Homo sapiens: one gene and its partners. The protein of the gene in region 4 purifies or fractionates together with the protein of the main gene of each other region. This does not show direct contact. Each region holds a gene or a part of one and is shown on either strand. Other genes may lie near its edges. The genes, in order: ITGA8, CELSR2, FAT1 and DKKL1.

What was found.
Region 1: the proteins of DKKL1 (region 4) and ITGA8 purify together in Homo sapiens (affinity purification with mass spectrometry; 2 studies listed by BioGRID and IntAct, with this or other methods). This does not show direct contact.
Region 2: the proteins of DKKL1 (region 4) and CELSR2 purify together in Homo sapiens (co-immunoprecipitation; 3 studies listed by BioGRID and IntAct, with this or other methods). This does not show direct contact.
Region 3: the proteins of DKKL1 (region 4) and FAT1 purify together in Homo sapiens (co-immunoprecipitation; 3 studies listed by BioGRID and IntAct, with this or other methods). This does not show direct contact.

The regions. Positions count from the first base shown.
Region 1 is NC_000010.11:15,716,920-15,724,807, reverse strand, and holds the start of ITGA8 (integrin alpha-8 isoform 1 preproprotein), read left to right. Parts: upstream 1-4,885; 5' UTR 4,886-5,036; coding exon 5,037-5,245; intron 5,246-5,908; coding exon 5,909-6,042; intron 6,043-7,888. UniProt on the Homo sapiens protein: Integrin alpha-8/beta-1 functions in the genesis of kidney and probably of other organs by regulating the recruitment of mesenchymal cells into epithelial structures.
Region 2 is NC_000001.11:109,252,532-109,259,547, reverse strand, and holds part of CELSR2 (cadherin EGF LAG seven-pass G-type receptor 2 precursor), read right to left. Parts: coding exon 6,159-7,016; intron 1,117-6,158; coding exon 469-1,116; intron 1-468. UniProt on the Homo sapiens protein: Receptor that may have an important role in cell/cell signaling during nervous system formation.
Region 3 is NC_000004.12:186,720,850-186,728,844, reverse strand, and holds the start of FAT1 (protocadherin Fat 1 isoform 1 precursor), read left to right. Parts: upstream 1-4,988; 5' UTR 4,989-5,181; intron 5,182-7,995.
Region 4 is NC_000019.10:49,358,957-49,366,885, reverse strand, and holds the start of DKKL1 (dickkopf-like protein 1 isoform 1 precursor), read right to left. Parts: upstream 3,010-7,929; 5' UTR 2,888-3,009; coding exon 2,878-2,887; intron 2,853-2,877; exon of another isoform or gene 2,823-2,852; coding exon of another isoform or gene 2,768-2,822; intron 2,305-2,767; coding exon 2,132-2,304; intron 1,378-2,131; coding exon 1,237-1,377; intron 1,094-1,236; coding exon 1,001-1,093; intron 1-1,000. Other genes in the region: TEAD2 (transcriptional enhancer factor TEF-4), read left to right, coding at 6,811-7,042, 7,387-7,451. UniProt on the Homo sapiens protein: Involved in fertilization by facilitating sperm penetration of the zona pellucida. May promote spermatocyte apoptosis, thereby limiting sperm production. In adults, may reduce testosterone synthesis in Leydig cells.

The DNA of each region.
Region 1 (7,888 bases), on a different chromosome or scaffold from region 4:
TATGGGTGAAATTCACCCTCCAGGGACCGAATAGAAAATTTGCAGACATAAGCTGATGTCAGCAGAGACACCTGACACATTTAAAAGTCTTTTCCCCTCAGTAAGTTTAACCATCCAGTTTCTACTAATCAGTTGTTTCTAATATTGCAGGAAAGCTGAGTTCAGTTGGGCAGAAAAAAAATCTGACATAACCTCAATTATCCATTTTCTAAGTAGAGACTGAAAAGCTACCTTCCATTCCTGGTGCATTGATTTTTAAAGCTGATGGAGCCTCCGAGCACACATTGCATTCACACTGGCTTATTCTGTAAATAGTTTAAAATATTTGAAATGTGGTTCTATTAATGAAATAATTATATTGACACTTTCACACCTCTTGATTTTAAGGCATGATCATATCACATAAAGAAATAGATTGAAACACAATCAGAAATAATAATTGGTCATTAAGTTAGACATGTTTTTGATTGAAAAGTATGCACTAACTGGTTAAATGGTCTGGCATTTCTATTTTTAAGTACTTCGTACATGGCTACAACTCAGACATCATTTTTTTCCCCTGTGGTACTCTTTACTTGTTTATTTTTGGAAAGTTTGGGCCAAATCTGTTCCATCTTTGACCTTTGGGTTCTTTTCTTTTCTTTTTAGGGAAAGAACTATGTATACCTTTCCCAGTACGAAGCATACACATATGCTCACATGGATGATAAACAACTCGCAGACTTGCTTTTCTGACAAATAAATCAGTGCTGGTAGATCTTTAAAATGTCAAACTTCTCATTCAGCATGAGACCTGTCACTGTCCATGTGTTTTTTTGACGAGTCCCCAGATCTTACCAATTGGCATGGTTCCCGTATGTCAGAATGATGAAATGTACAAGACACCTATTCAGACTTATCCCTTCTCTACAATTATTGCAATTGGGTATTTTTTTTTTCCTGGCTTCTTGGAAGGTTTACTACTCTCCCAGGCTTTTGGCCTCCCAGGGAGGTCAAAGAGCTTGGAGTTAGTTTGCGTTCCCTCCAAAACACCAAGGTGCAGCCAAACCTTTTTCCACGACCTCTCGGAAAAGTACACAGCAGCTTTATGCCATCTCTCAAGGACTAATCATAGGCATGCCCAGAGGGCAGCCCAGAATAGCTTACTACCTCTAGAAAGGTGGCTTCTCATTATTATCATGGCTTTAAAACCTGATTCCTTATAGATCTAGTAGCATGAGGAACTGGTTTTGGCATTTGATAGGGTTAAAATAGTACGACTTACTTGCCCTGTAAACATGCATATTATTTTACCTCCCCAAACTTTAATGTCCTCATCTGTAAAGCAGAAAGTGACCATATTAAGAATATAGACTTATGTAAGTCAACAGCAAGTATGTTTTAGAACACAGAAATAAGAATATACCTAATTATGTGTCAGTAAACAGATTTTTTTTCCCTTATCTACTCTATTTTTGTTGTTGTTGTTTTGAGACAGAGTCTCACTCTGTCACCCAGGCTCGAGTGCACTGGCATGATCTCGGCTCGCTGCAACCTCCGTCTTCCAGATTCAAGCAATTCTCCTGTCTCAGCCTCCTGAGTAGCTGGAATTATAGGCATGTGCCACCACACCCAGATAATTTTTGTATTTTTAGTAGAGAGGGGATTTCACTATGTTGGCCAGGCCGGTCCCAAACTCCTGGCCTCAAGATGATCCACCAGCCTCTGCCTCCCAGAGTGCTGGGATTACAGGCATGAGCCACCATGCCCAGCCTCTCACTCTATTTTTGAACAAAAAGACTAAAAAGTTTAAGAAATATGCCAAGGAAGTAAGCAAGTGGGTACAACATGGGATACCCTGGTGATGTGCTTCTCTATGCAAATCAAAGCATTGTGTAATATATAGCTAGTTCCACCTAGTAAGTCAGCACACAGGTCAGGTGCATGTCTAGGATCATTCTATCACCTTCTGCCTATTTAGATGGTTCTCATCCATCTCAGGCTAGCTTGCAATAGGACAGATTTCCAAATTTCAGCATGCCAGTGTCAGGAAATGATTGAGTTGAGGTTATTTTTCTAACCTCAGTGTCCAACACAGTTGTCAGCATTCCTATTTGTATGCTGCCCATGAATTCCTCATTGAAAATTACTGAAGGGAACACCACTTTGATGAACAATAGTAACTTGATCAGAGTAGCAGACTCTGCGTTCAAAGCAAATGAACTTTTAAAATGAGAAGCAAGTCTTCTACCATCTACTCCTAAGTCTTTACCTGGGAAAGGAATACTCAGGAAATTATCCAGACGTGACAATTTGCCAGGGAAATTTTTGATAGCTTATTTATTTGTATTATTTTTACAGGGGCATGACAAGTAAAGATATAACATTCAGATCAGTCTACTGAGTGGGTTCTGATGTAAGGGAGACAAGAAGTCCAGCTTTTCAGTAAGTTCAGAGATTTTTTTCTCTGGATAGACCCTCAAATCAATGGACAGACTGACCACTCCCGAAACTGCCATCTACATTGCTAATCGCAGGCTAGTAACTCAAATCAGTGAGCCCAGCACCTAACTCACCTTCTACTTCCCCAATCTGCTGTCCTAGCCCACTGCTACCGTTCGCTATTCTTCTTTTCTAGGTTAATACCTTGAGACACCTTGAATTTTTTTTGAGATGGAGTCTCGCTCTGTTGCCCAGACTGGAGTGCAGTGGTGCAGTCTCGGCTGACTGCAATCTCGGCTGACTGCAAGCTCCGCTTCCTGGGTTCAAGGGATTCTCCTCCCTCAGCCTCCTGAGTACCTGAGTAGCTGGGATTACAGGCACATGCAACCACACCCAGCTTTTTTTTTTTTTTTTTTTTTTTTTTTTTAGTAGAGACGGAGTTTCACCATGTTGGTCAGGCTGGTCTCAACTCCTGACCCTGTGATTCTCCCGCCTCGGGCTCCCAAAGTGCTGGGATTACAGGCGTGAGCCACTGTGCCCAGCCTGTCCCTTTTCTTTAGCATTTGTGGCCCTCCCCTCCCTTCTGTTAACCAGCTTGAGGTCCTCGCCTCCCAGTGCATCTAGGCAACACCTACTTTGCTTTCCCTTCCTTCCAACAACTACCCCCCACTCCCCACCCCTAAACTTTTGGAGCCCCAGAAGGTATGTCCCGTCTCTGCTCTAGAACTGGCTCCCTTTGCCTCAATAAATGTTATTGTTATTAAGATCCTCTTCCTGAAGATCCAGTCAACCCTATTTCCCACCACTTCCTAACCCACCCCTTTTATTCCAATCCCATGCACAACCATTTAATCTCTGTCTTTTCTAAGTATTAATACCTTCCCTCAACTTCTCCCCCCACAGTGCCCAAATGTAAGCCCCGTATTCAAAATCCTACGTAAATGTACATCTGCCACCAAATCCTCTTACATGCTTCAGAAAAAACTTAGCTCTTCTGTCTCTAAACTTCATATCTGTTTAACCTCGGCTCCTTCCGGTTTCATGCTGACCTGTTTTGTTTAATGTTAACGAATGACCATATGTTATGTAAAGGGATCTATACTCCTTTCTCTTCTCTGTCCTCCCCTACTCAAGCCTCACGTCCTCTCCGACACAGGAGACATGGGAAGAGATTGACAACACCCACGGATCAGAACCGAAATCTGAACTCCTGTAGACTGTGAACTACACCTTCTACCCCCGCAGAAAGTAAACTGTAAATTCCAACATTCTTAACTGCGCCAAACTTCATCACAATTACACAGGATGGAGATTTACTACTAAGTCATTTAATATGCCCAAGATGCCTTTAAGAAAGATTTAAATAAAATCTCAAGGGCTGGGCAAGGCGGCTTACCCTGAAATCCCAGCACTGTGGGAGGCTTAGGTGGGAGGATCGCTTGAGTCCAGGAGTTCAAGACCATGTTGAACAACATGGTGAGACCCCCATCTCCTTAAAAAAAAAAAAAAAAAAAAAAAGAAGAAGAAGAAGAAGGAGAAAGAAAGAGAAACAAAGAAAGAAAAGAAATTTTAAAAGTCAACTCGAGGTGGCAGGACGGCTTGAGGCCAGGAGATCGAGACCAGCCTAGGCCACATGAGCAGACTCAGTGTCAACAAAAAAAAATTAGAAAATTAACCAGGTGTGATGTGTCATCTGCAGTACCAGCTAATCAGGAGGCTGAGGCAGGAGGATCGCTCGAGCCCAGGAGTTTGAGATTTCATTGATCTATGATAGCACCATTGCACTCCAGCTTGGGCGAGAGAGAGACCCTATCTCTAAAAAGAAAAAAAAAATAAATAAAACAAAGCAAACCAACCAAACAAACAAAAACAAAAAATTCACACATGCACACACACAGGCGCGCGCGCACACACACACACACACACAGACACCCAACAACAAAAACAAAAAAAAACCCTCGAGGCTTTCTTGTATATGAGTTAGCTCTGCCAGGAGGTGGGGTGGACTTAGGGGAGGAGAGGGTTGTTGCATTTCAACTTTAACTCTCATCACAGACGTGCAAAGCCGTGAACGCTGAGGTCAGGCTGCAGAGGTGATGAAGAGATAATTGCTTTGCCCCTCCTGGTGGTGGGGTTGGTTTTCACATTCTCCATCCAAGCTGCGCCTTTGACACAACTGGAGCAAGCTCTCGCTCCACCTGGGGCATTGCTTCTAAAGCAATAAATAGCTTGAGGTGACAGAGACGAAACTGATTGTCCTTGAGATGGGACTGCAATAGAAATCCGGGCAGCCCGAAGAGGCACCCAGCGCTCCAGCCACCAGCTGGGCCGCCCGGGAGTCCCTGGCTCTAGACCAGCCGCGAGGAGGCGCCGCGAGAGAGCTGGTCCCTGCCCGCGGCCGGAGGAGGGCTAGAGCCCCTGGGCCAGCCCCCCGAGCCGGCTGGGCGGGCGGGCGGGTGGGAGCAGACGCCGGGCACTGTCACCACGGGTGCGCCGAGCGCACCGACCCGGGACACGGGCAGCTGGGGACCGCCAGATTCCACCAGCCCCCCTTGCCCCGCAGGGGTCCTCGGCTCGCGCTCCTGGGTAGCAGCCACCCACCGGGGCGGAGGGAGATGTCGCCCGGGGCCAGCCGCGGTCCCCGGGGAAGCCAGGCGCCGCTGATCGCGCCCCTCTGCTGCGCCGCGGCCGCGCTGGGGATGTTGCTGTGGTCCCCCGCCTGTCAGGCGTTCAACCTGGACGTGGAAAAGCTCACAGTGTACAGCGGCCCCAAGGGCAGCTACTTCGGCTACGCCGTGGACTTCCACATACCCGACGCCCGCACGTAAGTCGCCCGACCCGGGGAGGTGCGCGCGGGGACGAAGGCGCTCCCGGGTCAGGTCCCAGCGGCTCTGCCGCGGAGTCCCCCCGCAGCCTGGGATCCCCGTCCTGCCGCCTGCCCGGGGTCCCGTCCCTCTCCCCGCCACCAGCCCCTTCTCTCCCCTGCCATGCTAGATGTGCCTTGTGAATTTTGAGCTAGAGACATGCCACTTGCATAGAACACGCAAGTCCTGGGTGTTCCAGGTACCAAGACGCACGCATCCTACAAAGGAGAGAACAGGACCCAGAAGACCCAAGCCAGTTAAAACCGCCACCACAGCGAGGTCTGTTTATGCAGAGTCTGTAACCATTGCGTCTGGGCGCAAGAGCTGTCGGCTACCAGCAGCTGGGCTCTGTCCTTGGCTTCCTCCTACCCCACCCCCTTCTCTCATCTCACTGTACCCACAGAGCTCCACCTAGAGAAGCAGGACCGTTTGCATTCTTGCAAACCAGGTTGCGGACCCCCGTTTCCAAGAGGAAATCAAGTTTGACAGTCGGTCCTCATCATAAATACGTTCATGCCCTCCACGCCTGCCCCAGTGTCCCCGGGCAGGAGGTTACAGAGACTGCATTGCATGCGCACGGTTTTGTGGCGCCCAAAGAGTGACTTTCTCCAACTCTTTTGCAGAGCGAGTGTCTTGGTGGGGGCGCCCAAAGCCAACACCAGCCAGCCCGATATCGTGGAAGGGGGAGCCGTCTATTACTGTCCTTGGCCCGCGGAGGGGTCTGCGCAGTGCAGGCAGATACCGTTTGACACCACCAGTAAGTGAGATTTGTCCTTCTAAGCTGTGGGCCTGGGTTTGGAAGAACCAGGGCCATCCCAGAGGCGACTTCCCGCTGTCTTGGTGTGCTGCTCGTTTAGCTTGTCTGATATGTCCGTATTGTGGGCTATGTGGGTCTCTAGAGAAATCAGTTTTTTCAACTCTCAGTTAACTGAAGGAAGACGTTTAGTGAACCCTAGAGAAAGGACACTATTTTGACCCTGAGTGTTCGGATGCATCCTGGCAACTCCTGTTTCTTTACCTTTCTGAGATGAGCATTTTCAGGGTGAGTGGATGTTTTGGAGAAATACAAAAACTATGTCCTAACTTTGACTGTGGAGAGAATTTGGTTGCTTCTCAAGGACAGATCTGGAAAAAGAGAGATCCTTAGCGTTTCCAGTGCCCAAGCTCGGGAGGCAGGACTTAGCTGCTGCAGACCCAGACATCACTCCGCGTTGCTGTTTAATTCTTTACAGAAAGAAAGAATTTTCTTTCAAAGTATTAGACATTGAATGCAAACTAGTGCAGGCAGAGTGTGGATGGATTACATTCATTTCCAAAATCCCTAGACAGATGTTTCTTATTTAATTAAAGGGAAAATACATTTTAAACAATTCAGTCTGGTTACGTTTCCTCTGGTGTTTTCTCTTTAGAGCCTGAGAAAATAATTTAAATGCGATGCTTTCAAAAACATTAACACCGAATGCTTTAATTTTTACCACCAAAACTTTATGAATTCAAAAGGTATATATTATCAGAAAGCAAATATCTCTTTCCAGAAAAATGCGAATATGTCAGCTTGAACAATGGTCCTTGATAAATAATCGTTTAAAATACCTTGTGTACCACACAACTATTTTATGACATACTTGATTTCTTTGATTTTTAATTGTTTGATTAGTGCGTATATGGAATTTATGCGGAATATTTTCACAGAATTTCGATGAAATTGGCTGGATGATGTTTACTTGTTACTATAATTTGTATCTTTTATGTTAAAGGAGAAAACAATTTCAGTTTCATAAATATGAAAATATTTCAAAGCAAAACAGACTATACAAGCATTACCTTGAATTATGACCAAATTAGGAAAGTATTTTATAAAAGCATTGGAAAATTATATTTTTATCATGCCTGTCTATATATGGTCACAATAGCTTATCATTTTATTAAATATTCTGTTATTTTATACCAGTTTTTATAAGCTTTTACTTTTAAATTTGAGTATTAGCAACCAGGAAGATTAAACCTTTTGATGTTAATTTGTGACAGAAATCTTTTAATTAGTTATTTTATCAAGACTTGAGACACTTTCTAGCTACTGCTCTCTAGTTTAAGAATAAGCTTCGTAAACCAAAAGAATTAAACATTTAAACACAAAATTAATGCCATTTTAATAATTCATATCCGAATCATTTGTATTTTTAAAAGTATTTTAAAGCAGGCCAAATAAAGACATGAATCATTAACATTATTTGAATTTACATTAAGGAAAGTATATTTTGAGACATGGTTGATGTGTTTTCACCAAGAAGCAATTTATGGTCGTGGAAAAGAATTTAATAATCTTCTTGTATAGTCTCATAACATCAAATCAGGATCTGATTAGTATTTTTTTCTTTTGATAAAGGAAGAATCAATGTCTGCCCTGATAAGTTACAACTGACTTACTTTGTAAGTACTCATCCCAATAGATGTCATAGGCCAACAGATTAAAAACCAGAGAATCCAGATGTCAACTATGAATTCAAAAAATAACTGACCACTCCTAACTGAAAATTTTCAATATTAAATTACAATAGGTAGGCCAGGCGTGGTGGCTTATGCCTGTAATTCCAGCACTTTGG
Region 2 (7,016 bases), on a different chromosome or scaffold from region 4:
CACCCAATCTCAGCGTTCCCTTAAATCAAGGCCAACACCTTCCATGCCACCAGCTGTTTCCAAGTATCAAATTAATTACATTAATCCTCACAACCAACTTATGACCTAAGTACGGTCATTATCTCCATTTCAAATAACCGAGGGCCAGAAAGGTTAAGTAACTTGTTCAAGGTCACACAGCTACTAGCGGCAAAGCTGATACACGAACACAGGCCGACTGGCTCTGGAGCCAGCTCTGCCCACAATGGCACTGCCTGTGTGTCCTGTGCACAGCAGGGAGAAGCACTCCTTGCACTGCCTTCCTCAGTGGGGTGCTGTCAGGGAGCAGGCCGGATTTATGACCTCTCAGTGTAGCTGCACCTCACTCGGGAAGAGAATGAGGCAGCCGCCAGCATTTGTCCTGATTTGTGCCTGCACCACACAGTCAGCCTTCCAGGGCTGGCCCATGAGTCCCCTCCCTTGGCTCACCCGTGTAGCCATCACGACAGAGGCAGGTGTAGCCGCCCTCGCGGCTGCGGCAGCGCCCGTGGGGGCCACAGGGCCGCGAGTAGCAGAGGTCCACCTCGGTCTCGCAGTAGTCACCCGTGAAGCCGGGCGGGCAGCGGCAGCGCAGCCCTCCGACGGGGTGGATGGGCCGGAAGAGCACGGAGGAGGAGGCGATGAAGGGCGCGGAGGAGTCGAAGCGCAGCACCGACACGCAGCGCATGTAGTTCTCGCAGGGCTCCCGCAGGCAGATGTTGTCGTCGAAGGGCAGCACGCGCTGTGCCGAGATGGCCGTCAGCAGGCTGCGGTTGAGGTATAGGCGCTCCTGCAGGTCCTCAGAGGGCAGGAAGGGCGGCCCGCCCCCGGGCCCTGGCGGCTGGCCCACCGACAGGCTCACGTTGAGGATGTGGCCCCCGGGGGCGTCGGTGTCCCGCTGTACGTTGAAGACCACCACGTGGTCCGGTGGCGTGGCCAGCGTGGCGGCCACCGCCTGGATGAAGAGGCCTAGCAGTGGTGACAGGAAGCGCTCGGGTGACATGTCCTCCAGGCGCAGCGTGATGCTGTGGGTGAGCATCTCATCGGTGATGATGGTCACACGCAGCGCGCACTGGGCGGTCACGCTGTGTACGCCGTCTGTGGAGAGGGACACAGTCAGGACCCAGCCTGGGGCTGCAATTCAGCCTGCATATTCCTGCACCACCCACCAAGAAAGGCTCTCCTTTCCAACTGGCATAAGGGTGCTGAGCCAGGTATGTCACGTGTGGGCCAATCACTCCTTCAGGGCTCAGGGGATGAGATTTGCAGTTCTCTTTGCATCCTTTCCCAAAACCTTCTGTCGCTGATGCACGGCACACCTCTTAATGTTTGTGCACCTTTCCCTGCCCAAGCCACCGCTCCTGCTCCCTTCCCCCAGAGTCTGTGCTGCCTGCGCGGGAACCCTATGTTGTCTTTTTCATACTTTTCTACAGGGCCCAGAGCATCCTGAGACCCACAAAAATCATCCCCCTGCCCCCTCAGCCTCTACACCTCAACACCACGATAATCGCAACCATGGCTGTGTTCCCCACTCCCCCACAGCAGCAGGGAGTTGGCGGGGGTGGGGGGGAGTGGGTAAACTGGGTCAGTGGGCCACCTAGTCCCCCTCCCACTGAGCCCCATGGCTGCTTGGGCGCGCAGACCTGCTATCCCCATGGCAACATCCAACACAAAGCATTCTTCCCGCCCAACTCTCTGGGCTGCTGTGGGTAGCCTGGGGGGCCCCACCCCAGGAAATCCAGCTGAGCCACGTTAACCAGTGACATCATCACCCACTGCCCCATGCTGGAGACAGGGTGAGTCGGGGTGGGGGACCGGAAGGCAGAGATAGAAGGGCCTGGGCAGCTCTCCACTCTGAGACCCCAGAGCCCCACTGAGTCAGTCTCTTCTCTGGTCCTAGGGCCTCTAGCTACTCATCACCCACTTGGCTCAACCATTACACCCAAATGCCTGCTATGCCCCCAGGCAACACACTCACTTATAAACAGCTAAGCACTAAAACACACTTGCTGGTGTCTCATTCCACCCACACACCCTAAGCCCAGAAATACCATACACACCTGAATGCACATACACATGGGAATGAATTTTATTTAGCTAAAAAATGAAAGCTGGGGCCTGGAGAAGGAGGAAATGGCTTTACAGGGCAAGAAGGGATAGTCTTTTTTTTTTTTTTTTTAAGAGACAGACTCTCTGTCGCCTACACTGGAGAGCAGTGGCACGATCATAGCTCACTGTAGCCTCGAACTCCTGGGCTCAAGCGATCCTCCCACCTCAACCTCCCAAATAGCTGAGACCACAGGTGCTCACAACTATGCCTGGCTAATTTTTGTTTGTGTGTAGAGATGGGGTCTTGCTGTGTTGTCCAGGCTGGTCTCAAATTCCTGGCCTCAAGTGATCCTCCATCTCAGCCTTCTAGAGCACTGGGATTACAGGCATGAGCTACTGGCATATTCATATTTGTATTTATTACAATGCCTTACACATAGTAGGTGTTCAGAAAACACTGAGATGTGGATGACAATCTATTCAGTCTCCACAAAGAATAAACGGACTTTAAAACATAGCAGGGGGCCGGGCGCAGTGGCTCACGCCTGTAGTCCCAGAACTTTGGGAGGCTGAGGCGGGTGGATCACGAGGTCAGGAGTTCGAGATCAGACTGACCAACATGGTGAAACCCCGTCTCTACTAAAAATACAAAAATTAGTTGGGCGTGGTGGTGGGTGCCTGTAATCTCAGCTACTCAGGAGGTCCCAGATACTCAGGAGGCTGAGGCAGGAGAATTGCTTGAACCCAGGAGGCAGAGGTTGCAGTGAGCCGAGATCGCGCCATTGTACTCCAGCCTGGGTGACAGAGTGAGACTCTGTCCCAAACAAACAAACAAAACCACATAGCAGGGGGAGCCCAACTAGATATAAAAAGCAAATGCTTACCCTAGCAGTAACGGGGCAGGAGCCCATGTTTCTGGGGTGGGGTGGGAGTAGGCAAGGGACATGGGAACAAATTCTGCATCTGTGTTGTACCTACTTGCGGTGGCTGACTGTACCAGCGGTGGCTCAGCTGAAGCCGGGAAGGCTGAAAGCAGACCCCCATCTCAGCCATGTCCTCAGCCGACTGCCCACCTACCCTCCAGCCTCATCACTTGCTTATTCTCACTAGCTCTCACCAGCAAGCCTGCTTGTCATCACCCACTTCTGTTCCTCCTGCTCTCGTCTCAAAGCTGCTGCACAGGCTGTTCCTTCCCACCCAGACACCAGCCCACAGTCCTCTGAGTCTTCTAACCTGCCCTAGCTCACCTGCTCCAGGAAGCCTGCCCAGATTTATGTCATCAGGCTCTACTTTCCTCTCCGTTTCAGACTTCCCCGCACCAGGATGCTCAGCTGGCACAGAGCTCTTGTATACCTGGTATATCTGCCTAATGATTCCTTGACGGGATATTCCCTCCAGGCAGAAAGCAGCCCAAGACTCCACACACAGTGCCCATAACTGATTAAGAGAGGAGAGGGGGCAACCAAGGCCATGGAGCGGGAGAAACTTTGCCACCCCTCAGCCCTGGGAACAAACACTTCTCCCTGTGTCCCCCACCGCCATCGTCTTAGGCCCCGCCTGGGCCCCTCTCCCAGCATGTCTCTGTTGCTTCCCATCTGGTCCACCATCTGTGGCCACCTGCCCCCTCTGCTGTTGTCCCCCATCCCCAACAGTCAACCCACTGCTCTCTCCTTTCTATATCACCCTCCCCTGCCTTGACCTAGGTCACCCCTCAGGTGCAAAGGCAGGATGGGAACAGGGGTGGGGAGTACGTTGCCTGAGCTGTCTTCCTGGACAGAAAAGGAACAGCTGGGATGGCCTCTGACCCCAGGAAATGCCACCTGTGTCCCAAGCTTAGCCAGGCACACCTGGAAAAGTGCCAGGTCCCGGTCAGCCTCCCAGCCTCTCTTCCCCTGGCAGATGTGCCAGCGGAGACTGGAGGCCAAGAGGGCTCTGCTGTTCTGGGAGCTGCCCAGACCATGGACAGGAGCTGCTGCGTGTCTGAGCAGAGGAAGAAAGAGGCGAGGAGAATTCAGCCTCCAGGGGAGCCATCGGCCCAGGCTGGGGCAGCTGCAGCCATAGGGAAGAGAGTGGAGGCACAAACACGGAGACCAAACAGGGGAAGACAAAGCCTCAGGAGAGGAGCCAGCAATGGGCAAGTGGGAGAGCCGGAGAGCCGCAGGAGCAGGGAGAGGGCACCGGAGAGAGGCAGTGCTGCAGGGCTCCGCATGGGCAGGGGCGGGAAAGAAAGAAGAGACAAAGAACAAGAGGAGGAAAACAAAGGGGCAGTGGGAGTCAGCTCCCCCTCACCCCGGCCTCCCTGAACTTTGGGGTTGCCGTGGTGACTGCCTCCAAGGGTCAGGGCCGAAGGGAGAGGGTGGGGCCAGAGCTGCCGGGCCAGGAGGAGCCGTCCTGGATGTTGCCCCGAGCCTTCTCTAGACTAGGGAACCAAGGTCTAGGGCTCTGCCCTGGTGGGAGACCGAAGGCTTAATGGGGGCGCTTCTCTGCCAGTGCCTGGCCACGCTCACCAAAGGCAGGCTGGGTGTGGAGGACCAGAGGGAGAGGCCCTCCTTCCCACCTCCTTCCCACTTGTCTCAAGTGCCCAGGCACAGTTGAGGACACAGGAGCTCCAGCCTCCCTCTTCCGCCTCCTGGAGGGGAAACTGAAGTCTCAGGAGGCTCAGAACCTCAGCCACAGTCCCTGAAAAGCTCCTGCTTCCTGGTTCCTGTGGCTACTTTGAAGGGTGGGGCAGGGAGGCATCTGTCCAGCAAGGACCCTGAGTGAGGCCACGCCCTGACTCTGGCATACCCCTCCTTCCCCTTCAGGCCACACTCCCTGGGGTGGGAGTAGGGGCCTGCCAGCCTCTTCTTTTCCTCCCTTCCCTGATGGATTTGAAGGCTGCCTAGAGGGGATGTGACCTGATCCACCCCTGGGGTGCAGCTAACAGCATCCCCTCATGAGGGTCTCAGTTGTTCCCAGGCTTGGGGAAGGCACTCAGCAACTTGGGTGTGGTCTTCTCCCTGCTGCTACCTCTGGCTCCCCACAGCTGATAAAAAAAGACAGAATACTGTCACCAACCCCCTCCAACTCTCCTCCCCCAGCCCTGCTGTCCAGGGAGTCTGTAGGCTGAGTGCTTGGCCAAGCAGCAGGAATGCCCCAGCCTGGGTTCCGGCCAGGCTCCCACGCCCTGGGACTCTGTTCTCTCCTCAGATAAGGTGCCTTGGGGTCTCTGCCCTCAAAGCTCACCAGTCCACTGGCCTGTCCTGGTCCCTACACTCCATTCCTGGAGCTTGGGCTGGTCACAGCTAGCAGGAAAGGAAGGCCTGGCACCCTAAGAACAGCCCATGAGGTGGCAAGGGGGGCCCACGAGGCCTCAGCCTGCCCCCCAGCTTCATTGCAGCCCCTCCTCCAAGCCAGACCCGAACCACGGACTCTGAAAGTGGGGTCTGTTTGGACAGACAATGAGCTCTGGCCTCACTTCCTGTGGGAGCTCTGAAGGGGGAGCCAGGCCAGGCTCTTTCTGCCTGGAGGGAAAAGAATGCGCTAGACAAAGTCCCTGTCAGCCGATTCTGCAGCTCAGCCAGGAGGCAAAAGGGGCCAGAAGAGGACTACAGGGTCCTGACCCCTGGGTGGCGGCAGCCCTGTGCTCCCGTGGTCCCCAGCTCTGCCAAAGGCTGTGTGAGACTGCAGGAATATCTTGATGGGGGTGAAGGGGCCCTGGCCTCGCCTCCTCTCCTGCGCCACAGTCCTCTCTGCCCTTCCCCCAGCTCTCCTGGCCCCCCAGGCTTCCACGCGCCTTTTTTCACAATTCTTGGCAGCCATAGCCGGGGCAGCCTCACAACACTTCCCCGACCACGTCACAGGCTGGTAGACAGTGGGGGCAGCCAACCGAAGCAGCCCAGCCCAGCCCAGCAGAAGGTGGGGCCTGCACCAGCCGCCAGGGTTCCTGGGGCTTCTTCCCAAGCTGGCTCTTGCCCCTCCTGCTCTGTGCCAGGCACTGGGCAGGGAGGTGGATCTGTAGCTGCTTCCTGGATCGCACCCTACCTCCAGTGGCTGCCCAGACCATCCCCGCGAGCTACCCCCACCCCAGCGCCACCTGGGCCCTTCCTTACCTGACACCAGCACGCTCATGATGGCCTCCAGAGGCCGGTTGTTGTCCAGTGCGCGGCTTAGCTTCAGCTCACCCGTGGAGGCATTGAGCAGGACCAGGCTGAGTTCATTTCCCCGCTCAAAGCTGTAAGTCAGACTATCTGAGATATCAGGGTCATGGGCAGGTACTCGGCCAATGGCACCCCCAGGGAAGCTGCTTGAGCGATTGGTGACATAGTTGTTGAAAAGGATCTCAAAGTTGCCCAGCACTGGTGGGTTGTCATTGCGGTCAAGGAGGCGGACGTGGACTGTAGCCCGGCTCACCAGAGGAGCTGACGTGGCCTGGATGACCAGGACGTACTCAGGCCGGTCCTCGTAGTCTAAGTCTACCAGGGCTGTCAGCTCCCCGGAGAAGATGTCCAGCTGAAAGACCTCAGGGATGTTGCCCTCCACAATCTGGTACATAATCTGGGCATTGGTGCCTTCATCGGGGTCAGTGGCTGTGACCCGGGCCACGGCTAGCCCAATGGGGCTGTTCTCTTCCACAAACACATCAAACTCATCCTGCTCAAAGACAGGGGGATTGTCATTCACATCCAACACAGTGACTGTCACTTCCATAGGTGTGCGGGCTGGGGGCATCCCCTTGTCCACTGCATATGCCCGCAAGACATACTGGGCCACGTTCTCTCGATCCAGCCTCCGTAGCGTTCGCACGATGCCTGACGTGGACTCAACAATAAAGTCACCGTCTCCATCGTCGCCTCCTTGGAAGGTGTAGAAGACCCTGCCATTAAGTCCAGAATCACGATCAGTGGCTGAGATCTGCAGGACGCTAGTGAAGGGTGGCACATCCTCATAGACACTGCCCTGGTAGGAGT
Region 3 (7,995 bases), on a different chromosome or scaffold from region 4:
TCAATACAATTGTCACTAGCCACACATGGTCACTGAAACTCGGAATGCAGCTGGTGAGACTCAGGAAGTGCCTTTTAATTTAGTTTAACTGGAAGTAGCCACAGGGGGCAAGTGGCTGCCCACTACATTAGCACAGCTCTAGAGGTTCTGTTAAAAGTTTTCTGCCCATCTCACTTTGAAAACCAGCTATTTTGACTAATATCATCAATTGTTATTCATAAGTTCCTGTCATTTGTGATTTTTATCTTTTTTAAGTAATTTGGTTTATTTATTACAACTTTAAAGTGAGTATAGCAAACCAAATGGACTTCAGCGAGAAGCCTCTCGGGGTGAATTTATTGTGAATCATTTTGAGGACTTGCAATATGTGGTCAATTTCTAATTTCAACTATTGACACAAAAGGAGAGAGCCTGTGTAGTTGAAACAGGGAAGCAGGAGAAGTCCGCTGGGCACTGACAGACTGGCCTCTCAAGCCAGCCTCCTCCCTCCTTAGGAATCTGGCACCCTCTAGCTGCCCTCGGGGTCTGCAGGAGCTCTAAAATCCCTTCCTATATCCCTCCGTGTCCTAGCTCCCTGGATCCTCTCCTCCCTTCCAAATCAAAATGTACCTTGAGGGAGAGGCTTGGGCAGGAGGATCTCTTGAGCCCAGGAGACCTGACTTGAGTCTGGAGACCTGCCTGGCAGAATCTCCAATCAGTGGTGATGATGCTGATTTTATGGATTAAAAACTGAGACACTGCCAAGAAGTGAGGGAAGGGAGCGGGGGAGGGCAGGAAAACTAATATTGTTTAAGTACCTACTATGTGCGTGCTAGACACTTCATATGATGCTCAGTAAAAATGCTTTGCCTGCATGAATAACTGTTATCTCCCTGGCAAGTAGAGTGCAGTATGTTTTTTTTTTGAATGGATAAACACATGAATACATTTTTACCACATGAAGCAGATATTAGTCCCATATCACAGATGAGGACACTGACATTTAGACAAGTTATGACTTCAAGGCTAAACACACACAACATTCCAATCACCTAATCTTGTTCTCTCCTTACTGTTTAGCTCCCTGCCCAGTTTCCTCTGTGCTCAGAATTTTGCTCTTGACCTTTGTAAAAGAACGACCAGCTAAACTGATCAACATATTTATACCAACGGATGCAAATATGATAGAACCGCCCCCAGCCCCCTTTTGCAAGGATCTTGAATGTTAATGACAATCTTCTGGGGACAATGTCAACTCACAGAAATGGCTCCCTCGGAATTTCACGCTGTTCGGGGAGGTATTTTGGTACTTTAGTGGCATTAAAAATATATTCCACAGCAGATATTTTCCTGGAGGCTGGACACTTACATAAAGACGACGCATTCTTTATAAATTAAACCTCAACAGTGTTTGCATTTATCTAAATGGATATTATTTCGAGGAGGAGACAGTGATTTGCGTATTAGCCCCTATCACTAGGGATGACTTGTAAGACACATTAGGAACTGGCTCCTCCCCTATCCCTTCGCCCCCTCCTCTCAGAACCTTATAAGCTTCAGAGTACGGTCAAGACAAGAGGAGCATTGGGAAAGAATTTGAAAATAAAAATACAGCTCCGTGATTTTCAACACAAAGACCACGAAGAGCATAATAATAAGTCGTGAAAAAAAATTCACATCCAGAAGTTGGAGGGCCACAAAGTACAAGTCGTCCAGGCCAGTCTGCAGAGACTGTTCATGCTTCCGCCCAGCAAAAATCTGGCAGGCGACACATCGCGACGAATTTCGGCTGCAGAAGAGGAAGAGCATCACCTGCAGTCCGCGGCGTGGGAAACGCCGCCGGAGGGGCTCCGCGAGCCGGGGAAGTGCGCGCAGCGGGGCTCCAGGCGGCTCCAGGCGCTGAGTGCGAGGAACGCCCGCGCTCGCCGGCGCCCGGGAGACGCAGCCGAAGGAGGAGGGCGGGCGTTTCACCCGCGCCACAGCTGCGGCCGGCCAGAGAGACCGCAGAGGCCGGGACCCCCGCAGCCTCCACGGCCGCTGCTGCCACTGTCGGGGTGGCGCGCCCAGCCGGAGAATCCCGTCCGCGCCCGGGGCGGGGGGCGAGGCGGGGCGCTGACGTCACCTCCCCTCCCCCACCGCCTCCAAGGGGGAGGGAGTGGGGAAAGAGGCAGCGAGTCGCCGCAGCCGGCGGCCGCAACTCCTCAACTCGGCGGCTGGCTGCCTGGGCACGTCCTGACAAACTTGGCTGCTCCCGGGCCCTCGTTCCGGCCCCGCGCACTCTCTTTTCGCCTGCGTTTGGTGCTTAAGTTTGCCCTGGTCGGAAGCCTCCGGAGATGCGGCCGCCTGGGTCCCGGCGGCACGGACGTTGGCACTCTGGTTAGGGACATGCTGAAGATCCCGGGGAGGCAAAGTTGGTACTTCAAACCCGGCTCTTAACACATATCTACACCGCGAGGGGATCACGGAGCTGCCGAGGACTTTAGAGCCCAGGGCCGAGGACTCGGCTAGACTGGTGAGTTCTTTGTTCAAATCGTGCATGCCTTTTGGCATTTAAGTTTAAACGTTAATGAAATTACGTGGGGTGTGTGGCTCTAAGCGAGTGCGGGGAAGCGTGTGCGCCCTACGGGTTCTCGGCTCCAGGAGCTGCGCATCCCTCTGGCTTTGTGCGGATCGGCGATGAAAGATTCGTATGCATAGCTTTGGGAGTTCATAAAATACATATAGAGCACTGTTAAAAAGAACTTGAGAGGCGATGCTGTTTGTGCATTATTTTGAATGTAACTTATTATAGCAATGGTGCCTAGGGAGGGCGCATCGGGGCCGCGAGATTTGCAGGGGCGCAGCGCCCTCTAGTCCGGGCACCTGGCGAGGCGCGCTCCTTGCAGGGTTCTGTGCGGAGGCGAACCTGGACCTCCCCGGCGCTCGGCGACGTGGGCGCTTGCTCACCCCAGTCTTCACTGACCACCCACCCGGGCCCATTCTTTATATGAGTTACAAAAATCAGCTTGGGTGGACTGGATGTAGAGGCCGTGCTGGAGGAAAGCGTTTTGTTTCTGGAACCGTCTCCCCAACCCCCTCCCTAATTTCCACGAGCCTTTGGGGACAGGGTTAGGGAGGGTCGATTATTTAAAGGACAAATGTGGAACTTGAACCACATTTCTCTCTCTCATATAAAATAATTCGATTTGTGGTAGCTAATAGGCATGTCCATTTCGTTCTGTTGGCGCTTAAGGATCAGTAGAATCGTGGCAGAGTCCTAAGTCTGAAATCTCCATCCCTGGCTCTCGGCGGCTCCTGTGGCGACGAAGTGCAACTTCTTCCAGGCAGATAGATTTCTCAGGGAGCCTGGAAAATCGGGATTCCCAGACAGATGTAAAACATCTAGTAAGCCCTAGGAAGCGTTATTACTTATTAATTAATGGTAATCTTCTCCAGGAATTCTCTTGTGCCATTTAAAAAAAATCCCGTGATTTTACGTCAGGGAATGGTATCTTTGTACTTTTTTTACTGTTCTTCTTTTCCCCTTTTAGCATTACTCCCGCTTCCTCGCTCCCAGGAAACGGCTGGAGTTCCGGTGTGTTTGGGTTTTGCTGAGATTTACAATTCGGCAAGCGGCACAAGCCGGTTGGGCTTGGAGATCAGGTCACCCACTTTCGAGGTGTTCCATGTATGAAATTGACCTGTAAGCACTTGGAGCAATTATGGCCGGGACAAACACGTCTTTGGATGATGGAGTTTGCATTTGCTGGATGTGTGAATCTATGTGTATTCCAACTGGTGGGCAGGGAATATAGGGCTACGAATCGGCACACTCATCTTGCAGGCATTATTTTTCCTTCCCAGCCACAACCTGCTAGACACCTTTATTATTATTATTTTTTCCGGTCACCTCTAAGATGGCTTATAAGGTGACTGCGTTAACTTTGAACCCAGGAAATTCTCTTTCACACTTGACTGCCCTGCCGTTCCCCTCCCCGCCAAGCTCCCCTCACCAGTCCCAGGGAAATCGGATCTCTTTGTCTTCCCAGTGTTAAAATGCCTGAGTCCCACAAACTTTCCGAGATCAAGTCCGCCCTCTTGTCCGGGCTGCGTCCCAGCGCCTCCGGCCCTCCGGGCTTCGGCCGAGTCCGCCCTGCGCCGAGCCTGCGGCTGGAGCCCTGCCCGCACCGGGGATGGGCTCCGCGCCCGGGACGCTCAGGCTGGGCGCCCGGCGCGGGGAGTTCTCGGAGCGGGCTTCTCGGCGCTGGGGCTTCCCCTCTGCCTAGGAACTTGCAGTTGTCGGCCTGGGGTCACGCTTTGGGGCCCCTGGGGCCGACTCCCGGGCTAGGAAGCCCGCGGGACGCCGCGACTGCCTTTTGTCCCACAGGCCTGGGCGTCCGGGGTGTCAGCGGGGGAGGCCAGGCGCCCGCGGCGGGGAGGGCCTGGGGTCTAACTCGGCAGAAAAAGGTCGCGGGGGAAGCGTTTCCATTTTCTGGGGATTGAAGGAGGAAGTAGATTCCGACCTAGCTGCATTCCTTTGGAGACCTGAAGGACGACTTCAGCCCACCAAACCTTCGCGGACCCAGAGCCGCGCCATTCAAATGCAGATTCAGGGGCTCCCAGAAGGCTATGGAAAAGCTAAAGGGATGCCTCTGGGAAGCTTTCTCATTAGGCCCCAGCCTTTTTTTTTTTTTTTTTTTTTTAGCTAAGCTAACGTTTCCCTTTCTTGGCAGGGAGCTTTCCCCAATTCCTTGCACAGCGCCTGTGGCTGGCCGTAACTAACCTCGGCATCACAAGCCTCGCCCTGCCCCTCGGAGCCGCGCTAGACCCCGCTGGGCGCCTTCTCGTCTCCCAGCACGGACCTGGTGTTCGCAGGGACTGGGGCTCTTTGGGTCCGGGCGGGACTGCGTGGCCGAGCCCGCGGTCCCAGAGCCGGCAGCCGGGGAAAGTGGGCTCGAGTTTCCGCGCCCGAGAAATGAGCGCCGGCGCCGGCGGGCGGGGCCGGGGCGGAGGGATCTCCTGCGCTCGGGGAGCGTGAGGCGCCGGCGCCGAGCTGGGCGGCCGGGCGCGGGGAGAGGGCGCGGGAGCGGCTCGTGCGGCAGGTACCATGCGGACGCGCGAGCCCGGCGAGGGCCCCGGCAGGCCCGGTCCCTGCTCGGGGGCGCGCTGAGACGGCGGGTGAGCTCCACGAGAGCGCCGTCGCCACTTCGGGCCAACTTTGCGGTTAGTTCGCTGGGGCGCGGGCCGGCGGGCGGGGGCGAGAGCGTGCAGCGCGCTGCGGTGCGGACTCTGTGGGTGTCCGCCCGGTCCCCGGCTCGGGCTCCGGCGCTGCCGAAAACGGATGAGCGCGCGACTTCCCGGAGGGTGGAGTGACTCGGTCCTTCCCAGTTGGGAAATTCAGCACTGGCTAGGGGGGTCCCGGCGGCGGAGCGGGAAAAGGAGGCGACCGCGCGGGACCGATCCGGGGCCATTGCTGGGGTCCGATCCTTTCTGACACGCCGCCTTCCCTCCGGGAGCTCGCCGGGCTGCGCCGGCCTCGCGGTCTCCTGGGGCATCCCGCCGTCTGCGAAAGACCCGCTCGCTGAGCGGTGCACGCGGGAGGCCTGCGCGGGGCTGCCGGGTCCCTGGGTCTCTGGGTGTTTGCGCCCTGCAGGAGCGCTGCCCGGAGGTGCAGATGCAACCGGTGGACTGCGGAGTGAAGGGCTGCGAGGCTGCATTTCGGGGCTGAACATCTGCACAATGTGCGGTTTGTCAGTGTTTTCTGTCTTCTCTGGAGGAGGAACTTCTAAGATCTTTTTAAAAGAAAGAGTTTTTGGTCCTTCATTGCCTTTAAAAAAAAATGCTTTCTTTTAGAGAGCCAGCTTTCTGCTGTGTGTTAGATTTTTTTGTTCCCGCTGATGTGAATTGCAAGGCTTTGGAAACAAGGACGCAATTGTATGAGTTAGGAAAGTAAACTCATAAATATTTTCTATGCAGTTAAGTTTTTTTTTTTGTCTGAACTGTGGTTTCATTAAGTGGCTTTTGTTAAGCAATTCCCGGGTGCCTGATAGAGGCGATTTTTTAAAAGTGGATATTAACAGTGATTATTAGTATGAGAAAAGATTGAAAAGAAAATGACCTTCAGATATTCATTTCCTTTTCAAAAGCAGATTCTTAATGCTTCGTATATTCAGATACAGGTTTCGATAGTTTAAGAAGGTATCTGTGTGTGAGAACTAGGTAATGGTGATGTTTTTCACACTATTCTTAATGAGTTTGGTTATGCTGTCCAACACATCCAGTTGTTACAGGGACGTTTGAAAAGGTGTTTCTCCAGTTAATAGTTAATTGTGATATTTGTCTTTGTCTTTTTGTCTTAGGAAGACAGCTCTGATTCCACAGTTAGAATTATTCCTTTGTATTTAAGATGTAAAAATACTTAAAGCACTATGTAATTTTTTAAAACAACAATTGGTATAAGCCTTGAGTGATGCTAAACATGGCATTTAACAAGCTCAAGGTAAGGTTTGATTTGAATGAAGTTTGCATTTGTATAACCATTTTTTGAAAAATGAACACCTTAAATGAGCCAAATTCTTTGGCACTCTGGAAAGAAGTGTGGTTGTTAGAGGACTTTATAAAATCATTTCGGGCCACCTGTATATTCATTTGTCTCTTTTGAAGTATCCCCGTTGGGTTCTCATCATGTTAGTAGATCATTTAAATCCATGGTCCGGACAGGTGCCAACAGAAAAATGTTTAAAAATTATGGCCGGGCGTAGTGCCTCACGCCTGTAAACCCAGCCCTATGGGAGGTCGAGGCGGGCGGATCACCGGAGGTCGGGGGTCCGAGACCAACCTGACCAACATGGAGAAACCCCGTCTCTACTAAAAATACAAAATTAGCGGAGTGTGGTGGTGCATGCCTGTAATCCCAGCTACTTGGGAGGCTGAGGCAGGAGAATCGCTTCAACCCGGGAGGCGGAGGTTGTGGTAAGCCGAGATCGTGCCATTGCAATTCAGCCTGGGGAAAAAAAAGAAAAGAAAAAGAAGAGAAGAAAAATCTTTAAAAATTATGCACAAACTAATTCTGTTTTCATTCCCCTGATCATCCTCTACCTTTCCATTGCCTTTAGACTTTGCTTTGAGGTCCCTTTGAAGCAGTCGTTTCTTTGAATGTTAGAGGTGGATAGGATCTTAGAGATTATGTTTTAACACTTTACCCGCTTGCTTTCCACCCAAGTTTGGCTGATTTTACGTAGAATCAATCAGCCAAATCAAATTAGTACATTATTATTGCATTAGATTCTGTCTCAGTGGCATAATTTGTAGCCTAAAGGACCTGATTTAATAGCAGGGAGCCGTAAGGCTGGATGTGCTGTTTAATCTTTATGAGTGGGATTTGCGCTAGATAATTGTTCTTTTGACCAAATTATGTAGAAGTTGAAGCCAAACTCTATCTTTTGGTCTCACTTAATTGTTCAGTTTGCAAGTGCTTATTTATCCTTAGACACTGGAGAAGAGTTTTTGAAATGAGTGATATACATCAGTTAAGATCAGGAAGTTGCCATTTTCTCATACCTGAGGGGAACTTTTCATTTCAAAAATATATTCTGATGAGGAATCTGCATATTTCACTCTTTTAAGTTTTTTAAGTCATCTTTTACTGTAAGTCCCAGATTTAAATACATTGCCTGAATTCTTGCTTAATTCCAAGGGTTCATTATGTATGTGAAGATAAGTCTATAAAGTAAAAATAATAAAGGCTTCTATACACTGCTTAGGAAATATTAGTCATGATTTAATCTGTATCCTTCATAGAATATTAAGGTTAGAGCTTTGTGATAATCTGCAACACAGACACTGATCTGGCATTATCTATAGCCAATTTTGAGGCAGCGTAAGGTGGGTGGTGACCTCTTTCTGAGCTATTGGAAATGAGTCCTCTACAGAGCAGCCACCTGCAGTGTTGTTACCAGCCTCGTGGTTGTGCCTGGATTTTCTGTTAATTTGAGAAGGATGGATGTTTTATTTTCCTATGTTATCCCTCTCTATATC
Region 4 (7,929 bases):
AAATAGAAAAATTAGCTGGGTGTGGTGGTCCGCGCCTGTAGTTCCAGCTATTCCGGAGGCTGAGGTGGGAGGATCATTTGAGTCTGGGAGTTGGAGGTTGCAGTGAGCTGAGATTGTGCCACTGTACTCCAGCCTGGATAACAGAGCAAGACTCCATTCTCAAAAAAAAAAACCAAAAAAACAAACAAAAAAAACCCCAAAAATCAAAACCACAATAACAACAAAAACATTTTGGAGTTTATAATGGAGAGGTTTACCAACCACTTTGGGATAGATTGAAAAATACTCTGAAGTTTGCAGAGCACTTACTTTGAGACAAAAACACAATTTGGGGTTTATGAGGGTGAAGCTTTCCAAGCACTTAGAATTAAAAACCCTTCTTGGTTTATAAAACATTTTGGTGCTCATAGAAACACTTTGATTGACTATTATGTAGTTAAAAAAAAAAAAGAAAACCACTTTGATACAAAACCCTCTAGGGTCTACTAAACCCTTGCAGATGTATTCTGAGGTCAAAAATCTCATTTCTGACAGTTGGATTGCCCCACTTGAGAGATGGCAAAACTGAGGCTCAGAAGGAGGAAGTTCCACACAGAGGAGTAAGAGGGTCAGTTCCTCTTCTTGTCCTCCTAAACTACAGAAAATGTTAGGGCCTCACCAGGCATGGTGGCTCATGCCTGTAATCCCAGCACTTTGGAAGGCCAAGATGGGCAGATCACTTGAGGTCAGGAGTTCAAGACCAGCCTGACCAACATGGAGAAACCCTGTCTCTACTAAAAAAATACAAAAAATTAGCCGGGCGTGGTGGCAGGTGCCTGTAATCCCAGCTACCAAGGAGCTTGAGGCAGGAGAATTGCCTGAACTTCGGAGGCGGAGGTTGCAGTGAGCCAAGATCGTGCCACTGCACTCCAGCCTGGGTGACAGAGTGAGACTCTTCTTTAAAAAAGAAAAAAAGAAAATGTTTGGGCCTGGACACTTTGACGGCGGGGCACGTCCTAACCTTCAAATCACCCTCGAAGCTCCCCTCCGCTGGTTGAATGGATGCCACCACATTCTCGGAGATCAGCACCTCTCCTGTCTTGTTGTCGGTCATCTGTGAGGATCCGATGAGAGAGTGAGAGCAAACCTGCTTTCCTCCTCCGCCCTCCTTCCCTCCCAACAGATACTGCAGCACGAGGGATGGCGGGATGGAGGGATCCCAAGGGGACTTCAGGAAGGGCTTCCCTGCATAGGCACCTTGTCGATCTGGAGGTGGCTGGAGAGGGTGTTGTTCCCCAGCTGGTGCTCCTGGTTCTCCTCTTTGTGGTAGTTCCCAGGGAGGCCCCGGAAGTCCATGGGGGCAGAGAATAAGCTGTCTATGCCCCGAAGCAGGTTACCCTGGGGCCGGAGGAGGGACTGGTGAGCTGCTGGACCTCACATCTCCTCAGTACAGCCCCTTCTGCAGCCCTGCTAGGATGCTCCCGAGGCCTTGCCCCAAGTCCCTCCCATCCCCTTTACTTTCTGCCCTCTGATACTTAGGGCCTAACCTCCGGCCTCCATCCCCCATGAATTCTCTCTCTATTCTCAGTCCCATTGCCTTACTATCCCTGTTCCTCTTCTGTCCCCATCCCCCTCTCCTCCTGTCTCTTTCCCCAGTCTCTTGTCTCTGTCCCATCTCCTCTCTCTTTGCCTGTTACCTTTCCTCTCTTATTTATGCACGTATATATTTATTTGTTTAGAGACAGGGTCTCCTTGTTCTGTCATCCAGGCTGGAGTGCAGTGGTGCTATCATGGCTTACTGCAGCCTCGACCTCCTGGGCTCAAGGGATCCTTCTGCCTCAGCCTCCCAAGCAGCTGGGATTATAGGCGCATGTACCTGCAACTATTTTTTATATTTTTTTGTACAGATGAGGGTCTCACTATGTTACCCAGGCTGGTCTCCAAGTACTGGGCTCCAATGATCCTTCTGCCTCAGCCTCCCAAAGTGCTGTGATTATAGCCTGGGCCCAGTCCCTTCCCTCTTCCTATCTCTTGGTCTCCCTGTTGCCCTCTCATCCTGTCTGTCCCCCTGCCTGGCCCTGAACCATCTCCCACTCTGTGTCCCTGAACCTCTTCTCAGTACTTCTTCCCCCATCCCCCCGCCATCGCTTACTTTCAGGAAAAGTCGGCTGAAGCCTTGGAGTAGGCTCTGGAGGCCTGTGAGACCCAAGGAGCTCTCTTGGGCGTCAGCATCATGGATAGGAGCTGCAGCGGAGGGGATCACCAGGGTAGAGAGGAGCAGCAGCAGGACCAGCAGATGCCGCCTTGCGGGGGCAGGTGGGGAGGCTGTGGCAAGGGTCGGGGTCAGAGCCCCGCACAGTGGCCACGCCCCCACCCAAGACGCCCCTCTCCAGCACCTTGCCCAGGTCGCCTCCCCAGTTCAGGCAACTCCCACACCGCGCTCATTTCCCCCACTGCTTCTTTCTTCTACTCCCACACCCTCCACCTTGCCAGGCCCCGTCTTCTCCCAGGTCTGGCTCTTCTGGGTTCTGTCTCATATGCTTTTTTTTTTTTTTTTTTGAGACCGAGACTCTGTAGTCCAGGCTGGAGTACAGTGGCACAATCACGGCTCACTGCAGCCTCGACCTCCCCGGGCTCAGGTGATTCTCCCACCTCAGCCCCCCGAAGTAGCTGGGACCACAGGCGCGCGCCTCCACGCCCGGCTAATTTTTGTATTTTTTGTAGAGACAGGGTTTCGACATATTGCCCAGGCTGGTCTCGAACTCCTGATCTCAAGCGATCCGCCCACCTGGGCCTCCCAAAGTGTTGGGATTGCAGGCGTAAGCCACAGCACCCGGCCTCATCCAATGGTCTTTTCCTCACTTTCGCCCACGTTCACCACCAGATCTCAATCCTCACCTTCTCCCATACCCCGCCCCTTCTTCTGGGCTCCGCCTTTATGCTAGACCACAGCCCGGGTCACCGGACTCCCGGATTCCGGCCGCCCACGTACTGTTAAAGCCAAACAGTTATGGTCTCGAGCCCAGGTCTGGTCTAGAGCGTTGGTTGCGCTCCGCGAGCCGTAGCCACGCCCCTATTGTCTGACCACGCTCCAAACTTGCCGGCCTCACCCAGGAGCCCGGGCCTCTACTCCATGACCACGCCCTTGGTGACACAGCCACGCCCCATCCTTCGTTCACCACACCCCTTAAGCCAGAGCCGTGAGTTCATTCCCTGGCCACGCCCACACAGTCAGACCACGCCCACGTCAGTTGACCTCAGTCCTGGAGACCAAGTCCTGGAAGTCCTGGCGGTGTTCTCTGATTGCGGCCCTCGTTTCGGAGTCCCGCCCAATCGCAATGGCCACGCCCCTTGGCTGAAAGCCACGCCCCTGCACTGGGCCACGCCCCTGCACTGGACCACGCCCCTGCGTCCCAGATCTTGCCCTCATCACCCCAAGTTCCAGTCCTAGGCTCCTCCTACTGGAGACACCGGAGTACAAGCATCCCTTTTAGCTCTCACTCTAATTGTGTATCTGTTTCGGAACCTTTTCTCCGTGTCCCTTCTGGTTTTCCCGCTCCCGCTCCACTAAAAAGTCCCGTTGTCTCCGGAAACCCTAAATCCAGTCTTATATTTCATCTTCCAAGGAACCCAGAATCAGACTTCCTTTTCCCTGAGGACCTCAGGTCCGGACTCCCGCCCCCTCTAGTCCCGTAATTTTGAACACGCAGCCTTTCACCCTTAAGGGACCGGGCCCTAAGCCATCTTCCCTCAGGCACCAAAGCTCTCTTCCCCGTCCCGGGACAGCCGCCAGCCGTCTCCAGTCCACTAGCGCCTGTAGATGAGGAATCTGCACCTACGTGGGCCTCCAATAAACTCCCGGTGGTCCTGCCCACGACTCTTAACTGTGGTGAGGTCACAAGGAAACCAGGTCGTCATAGGAATCAGTCAAAACCCATCCCCAGACCCCAATCCTCAAAAAAAAAAAAAAACAAAAAAAACAAAAAACAAAAAAACCAAAAACCAAACAGAAAAAAAGAAAAAAAACCTCAGGGCTTAACAGTAAAGACTCTTTGTATTCGTATCACTTCCGCACCCCCAATACACAAACACGAGGGTAGCCGGGATTCCAGGCGCCTAGCCCCGTCCCCTCTCAGACCTAGGAGCCCATATCTCTCTCCAGCCGCTTCCTCTCCCAGACCCAGGAGTCCCAGCCCCCAGACCCAGGAGTCCCAGCCCCCAGCCTCTCCTCCCTCAGATCAGGGGTTTCTGGCTCCTATCAGCCTTTTCCCTCCGACTTGGAGTCCGAACCCCCAATCCCCCTCCTTTCCCAAGCACCCAAATCCTGAGTTCCTACCAGCCCCGAGATAGACTAATCTCTCCCAAAGCAAAAATCCTTCCCCAAACTGTCACCGTCGGATCCCCCTTCCCGCTGTCCGCCGGCCGGGCCCGCCCCCCCCTCCGGTCCCTCCCACTTTTCCCAAACAAAGCTCCCGGCAACTTTCTCCCTCGCAGCGCCCCGCCCGCCCGCGGCTCCCCAGCCCCAGGCCGGGAGGTAGGAAGGCGCCGGCGGGAGTCGGGGATCCTGCTTTGGGGTGTGTGAGTTGGGGTGGGGAGTTGCTTCTTAGGAGGTGAGGCGTGCGTTTGCGGGACCGTCTCTGAATGGTTCGCAGCCCTCTTTTTGCCCGGGGGCCCGAATTTGCTCCCGTGACCGAGCCTCAGTGAGGAGTGGGAACTCTGGCCGGAGTTAGGGTGCCTGCGGCTGGGTCTGAGTTTGGGCGTGCGCGCAGGAGCGGGTGCGGGCCAAGGGCGCTGGCGGGGTGTGGGGCGTGCGTCTGCGGCGGTGTCACTTTGGAGTGAGAAGGACCCCTTGTGTAATCTGGGGGGCATTTGGTCCTTCTTACGGAGAAGGGAGGGCCTCTGGGGTGGCCGAGGGGAGGTTACGGGGCTTTCTGGATCTTAAGTCTTGCCTCTTTGGAGGTTTAGGGTCTGGGGCGGGAAATTAGGGGGACCTTTCTTACCCGGCTCCACCGTCCCTTTGTCTGGCCACATGGGGAAGGGCTGGGCTGGGATTTTGGCCTACGGGGGTCCTGAACGCCGCAGCGCCACTGGGCTTGGCTGGGGTCTTTGTCTGCTATGGTCGGCGGGAGGAGGGGAATAGGGGCCTGGACTCTGGGGTCCTGGGAAAGCTGTGGAGGACATGGAGCCTCCGGGGAGGCGGGATCTGACTGTATTGGAAAAAGTTTTCCCTGTTCCCGGCCTCCGGAAAGTCACTGGGAACTTGAGTTGGATCAGAGCCCACGGCGCACGGGGGAGGGGAGGGGCGGGGCCCGGTGCCGGAGGGGAGTCGCCCTGGCCGGCAAGCCCCTCCCCTGATGGGGGTTGTGGGAAGCTGGGGGAGGGGACGCCTGGGCCCTTTGTTCTGGCTCTTCTGATGGCAGGGCGCCCCTGTCCCCCAGCTTGTGGTTCTGTGGGTCTCTCCTGGTCTCGGCCTCAGCTGCTGCCCTGAGTCTCTGTCCCTGCCCTTTCTAGGTCTCCGTCTCCCTTTCTCTGGGTCTCTGTTGCCCTCTCTCTGAGCCTCTGTCCCCCTCTCTCTGAGTCTGTGTCCCCCTCTCTCTGGGTCTCTGGTCCCCTCTCTCTCTGGGTCTCTGTCCCTCTCTCTCTGGGTCTCTGTCCCCCTCTCTCTGGGTCTCTGTCACCCTCTCTCTCTGGGTCTCTGTCTCCCTCTCTGGGCCTCTGGACCCCTCTCTCTGGTCCCTGTCCCCCCCCCCCGGTCTCTGTCCCCCTCTTTCTGGTCTCTGTCTCCCCCTCTCCCTGGGTCTCTGTCTCCCTCTCTTTTTGGGTCTCTGTCCCTCTCTCTGGGTCTCTGTCCCCCTCTCTGGTCTCTGTCCCCCCCTCCCTCTGGTCTCTGTCCCCCCCTCCCTCTGGTCTCTGTCCCCCTCTCTCTCTGGGTCTCTGTCCCCTCCGTCACTGGTCTCTGTCCCCCCCTTCACTGGGTCTCTGTCCCCTTCTCTCTCTGGTCTCTGTCCCCCTCTGTCTCTGGGTCTCTATCCCCACCTCACTGGTCTCTGTCCCCCTCTCTCTCTGGTCTCTGTCCCCTTCTCTCTCTGGGTCTCTGTCCCCCCCCCTTGCTGGTCTCTGTCCCCATCCCCTCTCTGGGTCTCTGTCCCCCTCCCTCTCTGGGTCTCTGTCCCCCTCTCTCTAGACCTCCCCTCAGTCTTGCTTGGCCCCTCTTCTTTTCTGGCAGCTGCTGCTCACATCTTACCACCTGTTCTTGGGGTGGGACAGGGGAAGTTTCACCCACACCTTCCTTCCCCACCACTAACTTTTGCCTCCTGTCTTCTTTAAAACCCGTAATTCATACCCGAACCTTTAGCCTTCATGGCCCTCGGCATTACTCTAGGGTAATCATTGTGACTTCATCACAATTGAGTTCCTCTGGAAACTCTGAGAACACTCCCATCCTCAGCTTTCCAAGAAATCCAGCTCCTTCTCCTCCCTCAGACTCAGGAGTCCAGACCCCAGCCCCTTCTCCCTCACACCCAGGAGTCCAGGCCTCCAGCCCCCGCTCCCTCAGACCCAGGAGTCCAGGCCCCAGATCCTCCTCCCTCAGTCCTAGGAGTCCGGGCCCCAGCCCCTCCTCCCTCAGACTCAGGAGTTCAGGCCCCAGATCCTCCTCCCTCAGACCCAGGAATACCCCCCAGCTCCTCTTCCCTCAGACCCAGGAGTCCAGGTCCCCAGCCCCTCCTCCCTCAGACCCAGTGGTCCAGAGTCCCAGCCCTCTCAGCTTCAAGTCCCTTGAGGGTGGGGTTTGGGGGAAGCTTGCTGAGTTCTGTGTTCCTCCAGGCCCAGATGGGGGAACCCCGGGCTGGGGCCGCCCTGGACGATGGCAGCGGCTGGACGGGCAGTGAGGAAGGCAGTGAGGAGGGTACCGGCGGCAGTGAGGGGGCTGGGGGTGACGGGGGCCCGGATGCAGAGGGGGTGTGGAGCCCAGACATTGAGCAGAGCTTCCAGGAGGCCCTGGCCATCTATCCACCCTGCGGCCGCCGGAAAATAATTTTGTCTGATGAAGGCAAGATGTATGGTGAGTCTACTTCTGTCTTTTGCCCTGGCCCCCACTGATGAATAATGACAGTAACCAAGGTTTATGGAGCACTCTGAAGTAGGAGCTAGCATCACCATTTGCACAGATGAGGAAACTGAGGCACAGCTAGGTTAAGTGATTTGCTTATGGTCGCACAGAGCCAGTGCGTGATGGAGCTGGGATTTGAACCCAAGCAGTCTGGCTTCCACGTAGCTGAGGGGACCGGCAGCCCACTTGCTGCAGACCTTTGGGGACCCATGCTGCTTTCTTCTTCCCTGGTGTCCATGCTGTGGGGAAGTTCTGTTGAAAGTCTAACTAACTCTGTTCCGTCTTTGAATCTTCAGGTCGGAATGAACTGATCGCCCGCTACATCAAGCTGAGAACGGGGAAGACCCGAACTCGAAAACAGGTCTCGGAATGGACTTGTGGGCTTCTGTCTGGGATGGGCCGGTCTTCTTAGGGTCATCCTCGCATGGGCAGGTTCAGGTTCAAGGAAGAAGCTGCTTCCTGTGCGTTCATCTGTCTTCTCGGCATGTGTGTTAGTCCGTTTGTATTGCTATAAAGAATTACCCGAGGCTGGGTTATTTATGTATTTGTTTATTTTTTGAAATGGAGTCTAGCTCTGTTGCCCAGGCCGGAGTGCAGTGGCGCGATCTTGGCTCACTGCAACCTCTGCCTCCCGGGTTCAAGCAATTCTCCTGTCTCAGCCTCCCGAGTAGCAGGGATTACAGACATGCACTACCATGCCTGGGTAATTTTGTATTTTTAGTAGAGATGGGGTTTCACCATGTTGTCCAGGCTGGTCTCGAACTCCTGACCTCAGGTGATCCACTCACCTCAGCCCCCCAAAGTGCTGGGATTGCTGGGATTACAGGCGTGAGCTACTG